Linked DNA regions of Homo sapiens: region 1 is linked to region 2. The links come from fine-mapping of genetic effects on gene expression. A gene starts in region 2. The other region holds a variant in brackets. All regions are shown on one strand. Distances are between the middles of the regions.

Region 1 (5,000 bases), 28 kb after region 2:
GTATACTGTATATGTGTATACACACACACACATAAAGCTTCATAGGAATATTTTTCTTTTTTTTTTTTTTTGAGACGGAGTCTCGCTCTGTCGCCCAGGCCGGACTGCGGACTGCAGTGGCGCAATCTCGGCTCACTGCAAGCTCCGCTTCCCGGGTTCACGCCATTCTCCTGCCTCAGCCTCCCGAGTAGCTGGGACTACAGGCGCCCGCCACCGCGCCCGGCTAATTTTTTGTATTTTTAGTAGAGACGGGGTTTCACCTTGTTAGCCAGGATGGTCTCGATCTCCTGACCTCATGATCCACCCGCCTCGGCCTCCCAAAGGGAATATTTTTCTTTTAATTAATTTTTTTTTAGAGATAGGATCTCACTTTGTTGCTTAGGCTGTAGTGCAGTGACTATTCACAGGTGCAGTCATGGCACACTACAACCACAAACTCCCAGGCTCAGGTAATCCCCCACGTGAGCCTCCTGAGTAGCTGGGGTTAAATGCTCTTGGCATAGGAATCTTAAATGTATTTCTACAAGTAAGCTAGTCGCTCTTTATATGGTACTTATTTCCTGGTAGGAACTATACAAATGAATCAGTGGAAAGGAAAACTTGTGTGGATTCTTTGAACTATCTCAGGCAGACAGCTGTGTTTCAGAGCCATCTTTTTGTCATTCTAAATCCCTTCTTCCTACTCCTGCATTCTTGCAACAGAAACCAGGCAGGAAGTGTCCTCCTTTGCTAGGAATTAAGGCTCCACAAGAAGAACGCTCCCTGAAGCTTGCTTCAGCCCTGTCCTTAGCAGTGGGAGGATTTCCGTCTTGGGCCCCTATGACTCTGATAGAAATTCAGGCTTCCCCCAGCGAAGATTTTGAACTTAAGCACTGAGCAGAGCCAGTGAATGCACAAGTTGGCCCCATCTACTCCCAAGTCACGCATCTGTCTGAATACTAAGAACATTCTCTATTAGTAATTTTCTGTGTTAATTTGGTATGACAATGTGGTCCTGCAAATGCAGAAGTTGGCAGGAAACTTCACCAAATGGGTGAGATCAGAGGGCACCATTTTGTTCTCTTTGGACAGTTAACTGCTTTTGGAATGAAATTTGTCAGATTTGCAATCTCTTTTCTTTCTTGAAACCTCCTAGATAATTGGGGTATTTGGTCTCTTCACTTAAACTCTTCTGATACCACAGTGGTCCAGATTCCTTGATTATATTTCTGTAGCTAACTTCCATTCTTCCGTTAGGCCAGTTCTCTACCCCCACAGGCACTCTGACTTTCATCCTTCTTTTCTATGTAAAATAGAACTTTAAATTCCATTCGCCCTTGAAATATGGTCATGTGCCACATAACGCCATTTTGGTCAATGATGGGTGCATATATGATGGTGGTCCCATAAGATCATAATATCGTATTTTTACTATGCCTTTTTCTATGCTTAGCTATGTTTAGATACACAAATACTGACCATTGTATTACAGCTGCCTACAGTATTCATACAGTAACATGCTGTACAGGTTTGTAGCCTAGGAGCAATAGGCTATATACCATGTGGCCTACATGTGTAGTAGGCTATACCATCTAGGTTGTATAAGTATTCTATGATGTTCACAACAATGGAATTGTCTAATGATGCATTTCTTAGGTCATATTCCCATCATTAAGCAGGGGTGTCTGTACTTGATAAAATGAAATACCTCATTCAACAATTTCACATAAATTAGTTTTCTAGGTAACTGATCTATATATCCTTTTAAGGTTTTTTTTCTTTGTTGGTTTGTTTTTTTATTTTGAGACAGTCTAGCTCTGTCACCCAGGCTGGAGTGGGGTGGTGCGATCCCGGCTCACAGCAACCTTCACCTCCCAGGCTCAAGCGATTCTTCTGCCTCAGCCACCCAAGTAGCTGGGATTACAGGGGTGTGCCACCACGCCTGGCTAATTTTTGTATTTTTAGTAGAGACAAGGTTTCCCTGTGTTGGCCAGGCTGGTCTCGAACCCCTGACTTCAGGTGGTCCACCCGCCCCAGTCTCCCAAAGTGTTGGGATTACAGGCGTGAGCCACCACGCCTGGCTGGTTTGTTTTTTTTAAACAACCAAATTTTTCTAACAGAATGCTGAAAATATCATTCTATCTGGTATAC[A/G]TAAGTACTACAATGTATTTTTAAGTCATGAATGGTATAGTTTGATGTTATGTTCCAAATGTTAAAAGAGCATCACATTTTTATACCCCTTCCCCCCAAATTAGCCATTTGCAATGAAACTGTAAACTGTCTGACACATTTTCCTGCATTCTGATTTCTGACCCTTGTGAATGCAAGCCTGCTCTGAGCCAGGCCCTGTGCTATATGTCCTGGGGGTGGAATGGTGATAAAAGAATGCTTGCCTTCAAGGGGCTTACCGTTAGTGGAGAATACACACAAGCAACCCCTCTCATCTTCTACAGCCTTCTTAGCTTTAATACTGGGATGCTCTTGGGGTTACAGAGATAAATGGGACTATTCCTCCCTAGTTTAAGGGCTCAGGATGTTCTTTGAATTTTTGTATTTGCTTTTTTAAAAAATTGTCTACCCAAGCACAGCTGCATTTTAAAAAACTGTCTGAATTGGTAATATATGCACATAATAAAACATTTAGGCCAGGCTAGGTGGCTCATGCCTGTAATCCCAGCCCTCTGGGAGGCTGAGGCGGGAACATCACTTGAGCCCAGGAGTTTAACCTGGGCAGCATAGTGAGCCTTATGTTCTTAAAAAAAAAAAAGAAAAAAAAGAAAAGGAAAAATTCAAAAGGGACAAAAGAATGTGGAGTAAAAAGTAAGTCTCCCCCATTTTCCAGCCACTCATTTCCTTTCCCCTGAGCAGCCTCTGCTACCAGTTTTTATTTATTGTTCTCAGACACTGACATGCATCTACATGGGCATGGCCACTTTGCCCCAGATTGTAACTTTCACACACTGTCCTGCTCCTTGCCTTTTTCATTTAGCACAATATCTTGGGGATCATTCAATAACAGTACACACAGAGATGCTTTCTTCTTCTTCTTCTTCTTCTTTTTTTTTTTTTTTTTTTGGAGATAGGTTCTCGCTCTGTCACCCAGTTTGGAGTTCTGTGGTGCGATCATGGCTCACTGCAGCCTCAGCTTCGCCAGTTCAAGTGGTCCTCCTACCTACCTCAGCCTCCTGAGTAGCTGGGACTACAAGTGTGCACCACCACACCCGGCTAATTTTTTAAATTTTTTGTAGAGACAGAGTCTCCCTGTGTTGTTCAGGCTGTTCTCAAACTCCTGGGCTCAAATGATCCTCCTGCCTTGGCCTCCCAAAGTGCTGGGATTACAGGCATGAGCCATTATGCTCAGCTACTTTATTCTTCTTCATGGTTGAATAGTAGTCCATTACTTAACTAGTCATCTATTAATGGACATTTTGGTTGTCAGTACTCTTTTGCTACTATAAACAGTGCTGCAATGAATGTTCTCTTATGAACATCATTTAAGTTCGAAGAACTTTGCCAAATTTCTCTGTACTCCCTGAACAGCAAATGAAGTTTGCTGTTCCTAACATGTTCCCTCCTAATATATTGTTTATCCCGTTATGTTTAAAATTCATCTGTTTCTTTTTCTTTGAGTTGTTCATGTTTTCCATTCACTTTTCTATTTGGTTGTTGGTTGTTTTTTTAACAGATTTGGAAGAACTCTTAGTATCTTAAGGAAATTTGCTTTTATGATAGTACAAGTATTTGCTCCTGCCTTTTTTTTGTAGCCTTGCTCTATCTCTGTAGCCACTGTCGGCTTTCATTTGACTTTTCTCCATCTCCGTGTTTTAACATTGCTTATCTTTGGCAACTTCCTTTTCCCTTCTTAGAGCTTCTTGCACAAACAAGCAAATACATTGATCTCCTGAACTTTGTGTGCGGGCCGTTTGATATCTCTTCTAACTGCTCAGTGGTATTGTTTGCTTACTCCTGGTTTCCTATACTTGGAACTGTGTATTCTTTTCACATTTACTTGAGGTGTCTGGGTAAATGAGGTGTTAGTGCATCTAAGGCAAAACCCTAGAAGGTAGTATGCTTGTCAGCCTGTGGCAACAAAGTATGAACTCCAACCCTTACTCTGCAGTGAGCTCAGGTTATCATTTTCGTATGTTCTCTTTTGATTCACGTTTAGTTTCACATTTTCTGCCCTAAGCAACCTACAACCTTGCCAAGTCATTTGACTTTCCTCATCAGTAAAATGGGGATAATGCCTATACATCAAGTTGTAGTGATTAAATAAGGCCGGAAACATTTCAGGGAAGAATGGAAGGGCTGGAGTAGAGTTCTTAACTTTTCCTTTCATCTTCAAGTCCTGCATTTTCTTTTCTTCCTCCTCCTTCTTTCTTTCTTTGTTTTGTTTGTTTGTTTGTGTGTTTGTTTTTTGAGACAGGGTCTTGCTCTGTTGCCCAGGCTGGAGTACAGTGGTGCCATCATAGCTCACTGTAACCTTGAACTCCTGGGCTCAAGCAATCCTCACATTAGCCTCACAAGTAGCTGGGACCACAGGCATGCACCACTATACCCGACTAGTTTTTTTGTTTTTTTTTGAGGCAGTGTCTTGCTCTGTTGCCCAGGCTGGAGTGCAGTAGCGCGATCTCAACTCACTGCAACCACTGCCTCCTCCTGGATTCAAGCTATTCTCCTCCCTCAGTCTCCCTAGTAACTGGGATTACAGGCACGCGTCACCACACCCAGCTAATTTTTTGTACTTTTAGTAGAGATGGGATTTCACTGTGTTGGCCAGTGAACTCCTGACCTCAAGTGATCCACCCACCTTGGGTGGTCTTGACCTCCTGACCTCAAGTGATCCACCCAACTTGGCCTCCCAAAGTGTGGGATTACAGGCATGAGCCACCTCACTTGGCACTGTCTAATTTTTCAAAACATTTTCTCGTAGAGATAGGGCCTCACTATGTTTCCCAGGCTGGTCTTAAACTCCTGACCTCAAGTGGTCCTCCTATCTCAGCCTCCCAAAGTGCCAGGAT
Region 2 (5,000 bases):
TATTTGGAAAACCATCTCTAACAAGTACGACGAACCAAACACTAGTAAAATGTCATACAGGGACACAAGTCTCTTACAATCTCATAGAGGGATCTACAAAGCAAGATACCATCCCAGGAAATGCAAAGTCCACATAAGGGGAAAAATAAAGAGAACCACTGTGCAAGAGAAATTTAAAAGCAACTTCCAACATGCCTCATAATCTATAGTCTAGGGCTACCACAACAACGCATAGTATTCGTGGAGGAAAAAAGGCAGTCTTTACAAATCACAACTGAGGGAGAAAGTATGATATTCACTGCCTGTAGACATCCAAAAGCCATGCATATATATATGCAAAAGGGGGAGGAGGTTTACAATGTTGAGATCAAATTACTTAGAGGAAAATTTCAGCTGTTAGGGGAAAATAATTCCTGAAGGAAAAGATATTACAGTGGTAACTCCTGCCAGCACCATAAGAAGTTCAAAGTAAATGAAAACTCTGAGAGCAAAAGCTGGAAATCCCACCATCCCCATCTAAGCAGGGTTTGAAACCATGGGTTTAGATCTTAATATGACCTAAGAAGCTGTGAACCTTGAAGCTTTCAGTACAATATGGCTCCCAGCACTCCGCAGGTGACAGACAACGACTGTATTAATCCCACCCCTTACCTCTACATACTACTTTACATTTTAGAAAGTGCCTTCACTTTTATTCCTCAACAGCAACCCGTTTGGTGGTAGAATCACACTAACTTACGTTCACGCAGCTTGTAATTTGTACTTTCACATACTGCGCTGGTTATTTTACAGTAGAGACTTAAGGAGGTTAAGTCACTCCACTAAGCAAGAACAGATGGTAGGTAAAGGGCCTGGAAAACTGCGGGATTCTACTCAGTCGATAACAGACACTTCTAACCCTTCAAAGTTCAAAGTACAACACTCCAGGGGGAGCAACCTCTCTCAGAGAACTATACAAGACAGGACCTCGGAGTCTCAGCCGACCGCCTCGGTCTCAGTCGGTTTCCCTCCCCAAAGACGGGGAAAGTGAGGCAGCAGGAGAGACAAATGCCTAATTTGGACTCACGCAAGGGGTGTTGGTGGGATAGACTCTCCCCACCCCACTCGGGCAATAAGCCCGGAAGCAGTTGGATCCTGTGTCTGGGACACCTGGTCGATCTACAGAGAGAGGGAATAATTCCCGTTTCCCTTTCACTACTCCCCACTCTGGCTTTCCTGTGGATGGAGGTGTCTTCTTCCCATCACCGCCCAGAAATCCCCTCTCCCCAAGGTCCTTACCCAATTTTCAGCTCCGGCTTCCGTAGTAGGACATTCCGCTAGTTCTAGCTCCTGCTTCCTAGCCCCATTCTCTCTCTATCCCAAGGCGTTTCTAAATCTCCCCGGGGAGGTATGCCTCATCCGTGCCACCTAGACCGTAAACTCCACAAAAAGAACCCTCCTAAAGCGTCCCTTCATCTACCCTTTCTATCCCGGGCACCCCTGAGTAGGTCAGGACCCCATCGGTACCAGGAGCCACCCCAGGAGATAGATAGCTGCCTCTCACCTGGGCCCTGTTAGCCGCAGCCTCCTCAGAAGGGCGACCCCCAAGAACCTCTTCTGGTGAGGACCCCCGAAAGAGGGAACACCCTCTTCTAGGAACCTCTTCAGATCCCTCAAGCGCGGGCCTCGGTGGAAAACCTCTCGGCTGTTTCTCAGGTTCTGACCAACGCCACCTCTCTCCCGGGCCCTTTCCAGAGCCTACCCCGGCCCCAGTCCGGTCCGCCCGCCCCAGGCTCGAGCGGCTGTTCCCCTCCCTCACAGACGTCCCCAACCCTCAGACTCCCTCCCGTTCCGCGTGCCCAGGGCTCAGAGCAGCGCGGTCGGGCTGTGGCACTGACTTTCTCTACCTCCCGGGCCCACCGGAGGGAGGGGGCGGCGGCGGCGGCGCGACTCCTTTGTGACAGGTCCGAGAGAACGGCAAAGATGGACGCGAGGCCACGGCGCTGCCATTACGCGCAGAGCCCACCCCCGCTTCGTACCGCCCCAGCCCTCCCTCAGTCCCCTAGGAAACGCCCCTTCCTCGGTGGCAAGCCCTCTCCTTGACAGCCAATCACCTTTCAAAAATCGTGTCACGTGATCAGCGGGACCGGCCCGCCCTCCAGGCGCAGACTGGCCAGTCCTCATCCTGAGGCGTGAATGGCCCAATCAAGTCTCTCCGGCTCGTTTTCAGGGTACCGGATTTCCATCGGGCTCCCGGGGAGGAAGAGCTCCGCGGATTGGGTTACGTCGCCGGAAGTGGGGCGGGACTCTATTGTGGCGGTGAGGAACAGGAAGCCCTGAAGGGTCAAAAGAAATACAAAAGCAAAGGCTATTTTCTTTTTTTTTTTCTTTCTTTCATTCATTCCTTCCTCTGTTTCTTTCTTTCTTCCTTTCATTTTTTTTTCTTTTTTAAGAGCGAGCGGCTCTGCGGTGGCGGTTTGGGGTGGGCGCCGCCGAGGTGAGGTCGTCTCGCCTCCCGCGCGCCGGTAGGTGAGTGCGGCCTCGGTCCTGGCCTGGCGGCGACACCTGGGTTCCAGCTTCCTTACGGAAGAGATGAGCTGCGGCTGCTGTTAGGGTTAGGGCCAGGCCTGTTCTCAGTCCGCGCACCCGCTCCTTGTCCGGAGTAGCCGAAGCCTGGGGCTTGCGGGCCCAGCCTGAGGGGAGCTGAGGGTGCCCGCGGGAAGGCATCTGGGTCGCGGCGAGGACCCTTTCAGGCGGGCCCAACACTGCCGGGCGTTTAATGGGGTTTCCCCAATTTTCTGCTAGGTAGGGCCACCCAGGTTTCAAGTGAGTAGCAGGCTCCGTTCCAGAGGTCTTGGAACAGGTCCAGGTTACTCACTCGGATGTGCGGCGTCTGGTTGGAAATGGTTGAATCCCAGAATGGCAGTGCAGGATGGGAAGCACATTTATTGTGTGCCATGTACCAGTTGCTGTGCCAAGCGAATTTTCTATTACGGAAAACAAGCCAGCTGGCCCGTTTTGCAGAAAACTTAAGAAACAAAGAGAGTTGAAGCGTCATGCTTGAGAGTTGGTGGTCCTTGTGACTGTCAGTCCACACAGAGGAAAGGGGGAGACCTGTTTGTTCGTAGTCGTGGTTCTTTAATGTTAGTGGAAAACAAGATCTCCTGGGGCCCTTTTAAAATGCAGTTTCTCAGACTCCCGCACGCTCGGGTAGCCCGACTGGTTAGTTCAGGAGTGGGACCCAAGAAGCCAGATGCGAGCCTGGTGATCGGAATTCCCGATGACCTCTTGCCTACCACCTGTGACATAAGATTTGTCGATTCATCAGTTATTTGGTGTATTCATGTGTCCACAGGGACACCATAAAATGGAAGGCACCCTTCTGAAATATTTGAAGGGAATCAGTGGGTAGACTCCTTTTTGATACAAAGTATTGAGCCGACAGCAGCTTTTACAGTCTTTTAGTTAGATGACCTGCGAACAATTTGTAAGGATCTGAAAGTAGAGGCTGCCCGATTATCTTTCTCAACTGAAGTCTTCATGTCCTTACCCTGTGGGGAAGTGCTTCATGATATAAGAAAGGAATAATTGTGTCAAAACCATTTAGTTGATTATCAGTCTTCACTTTCATCTTCCAAGAATGGTGATGCTTGGTTAGAATCAAGCTGCTGCTTTAGCTATTGAAAACCACGTATGTGGTAAATCAAGTAACAAGTGCGATGTACGTACAGGGTCAGTCATAGTGTAATTATGCCTTTATGGCAGCTAAATTAAGCATTTTCAACGTGTTCACCATTAGTCACCTTTTGAACATACTTTGTCTTCATTCTTAAATATTATGTTTCACTCTTTACTATAGAATATGTTGTTAAGATTGTTTTGTCTAAAATCAAGTATCGACAAGTTTAAAAAAAAGATTGTTTTGTGTTTGGTTTTCTGTATTTCCACTATGCTCTATGGAACTATGGGTTTGTTTTTGTTCAATTTGTTTGGTATTTATTAGACTTCTTGAATCTGTGGATTAGTGTCTTTCATTAATTCTGTAAAATTCTCAGCCATTTTATATGCATATATTGCTTCTTCCCATTGTTTCTCTTTTTTTTTTTATCGATTTAACTAAACCTTTTCACTCTTTTCTCTATGTCTTTTACTCTGTTCTTTCGTAGTACATTCTGGATAATTTATTCTCAAGTTATTTCCATTGTTATTAAACTCGGCCTCTGAAATCTTAAATCATATATTGCAATTTTTAGTTTCTGAAGTTCTGTTTGGTTTGTGACACTTTTACAGTTTTTTATTTCTTACTATTTTGAGGCTTAATTTTATTTCTTTAAACATGGAAAGTATAGTTGTTTTTATAATCTCTATGTTTAATTCCACTGTCTGAATTCCCTTTGGGGGAGTCTGTTTCTGTTGTCCATTATTCCTGCTGTTTTACTTCCCAGTTCACCTTTACTTTGAAGCTGTAGTTCTTTTGGGCACAAGATTAAGATGGAGAGGGAGGTAGTTGTCAGACTCCACTCCCTGGATGGGCTCCTGGCTTGAACTTGTTTCTGTTATCTCATAAAGGCACTGAAACTTTAGCTTTTAGGTCAGAGAAGTCCTCAGGATGAAATCCATTTTGAATATTGGGCTTAATTTCTGGTTTTCACCTTCTAGATTGTGTCCAAATTCTTTACTATCTTGTTAGCTTTTCTATTTAAGAATTAATATTTTTGGCTGGGCGTGGTAGCTTACACTTGTAATCCCAGCACTTTGGTAGGTCGAGGTGGGCAGATCACTTGAGGTCAGGAGTTTGAGACCAGCCTGGCCAACATGGTGAAACCCTGTCTCTACTAAAAATACAAAAATTAGCCAGTCATGGTGGCGGGCACCTGCAATCCCAGCTATTCGGGAGGCAGAGGTAGGAGAATCGCTTGAACCTGGGAGGTGGAGGTTGCAATGAGCTGAGATCATGCCACTGCACTCTAGTCTGTGTGACAGAGCGAGACCCTATCTCAAAAAAAAAATTATTTTTGACA

What was found. PIP is the estimated chance that this variant, and not a neighbour inherited with it, causes the effect.
Region 1: its variant is fine-mapped to the expression of PSME3IP1 in whole blood (TOPMed, PIP above 0.99).

The regions. Positions count from the first base shown.
Region 1 is chr16:57,155,368-57,160,367 of GRCh38, reverse strand. The region is part of intron 6 of PSME3IP1 (proteasome activator subunit 3 interacting protein 1); the gene reads left to right. Among named protein-coding and RNA genes, the nearest start is that of PSME3IP1, 28 kb to the left of the region's middle. The variant A/G (reference allele first, on the strand shown) is at 2,131.
Region 2 is chr16:57,183,329-57,188,328 of GRCh38, reverse strand. PSME3IP1 (proteasome activator subunit 3 interacting protein 1) reads left to right here and starts at 2,290. Exons shown (of 7, transcript NM_024946.4): 1 at 2,290-2,508. RSPRY1 (ring finger and SPRY domain containing 1) reads right to left here and starts at 2,000. Exons shown (of 15, transcript NM_133368.3): 1 at 1,878-2,000. RefSeq lists enhancers at 660-1,304, 2,616-2,665 and a silencer at 1,706-1,915.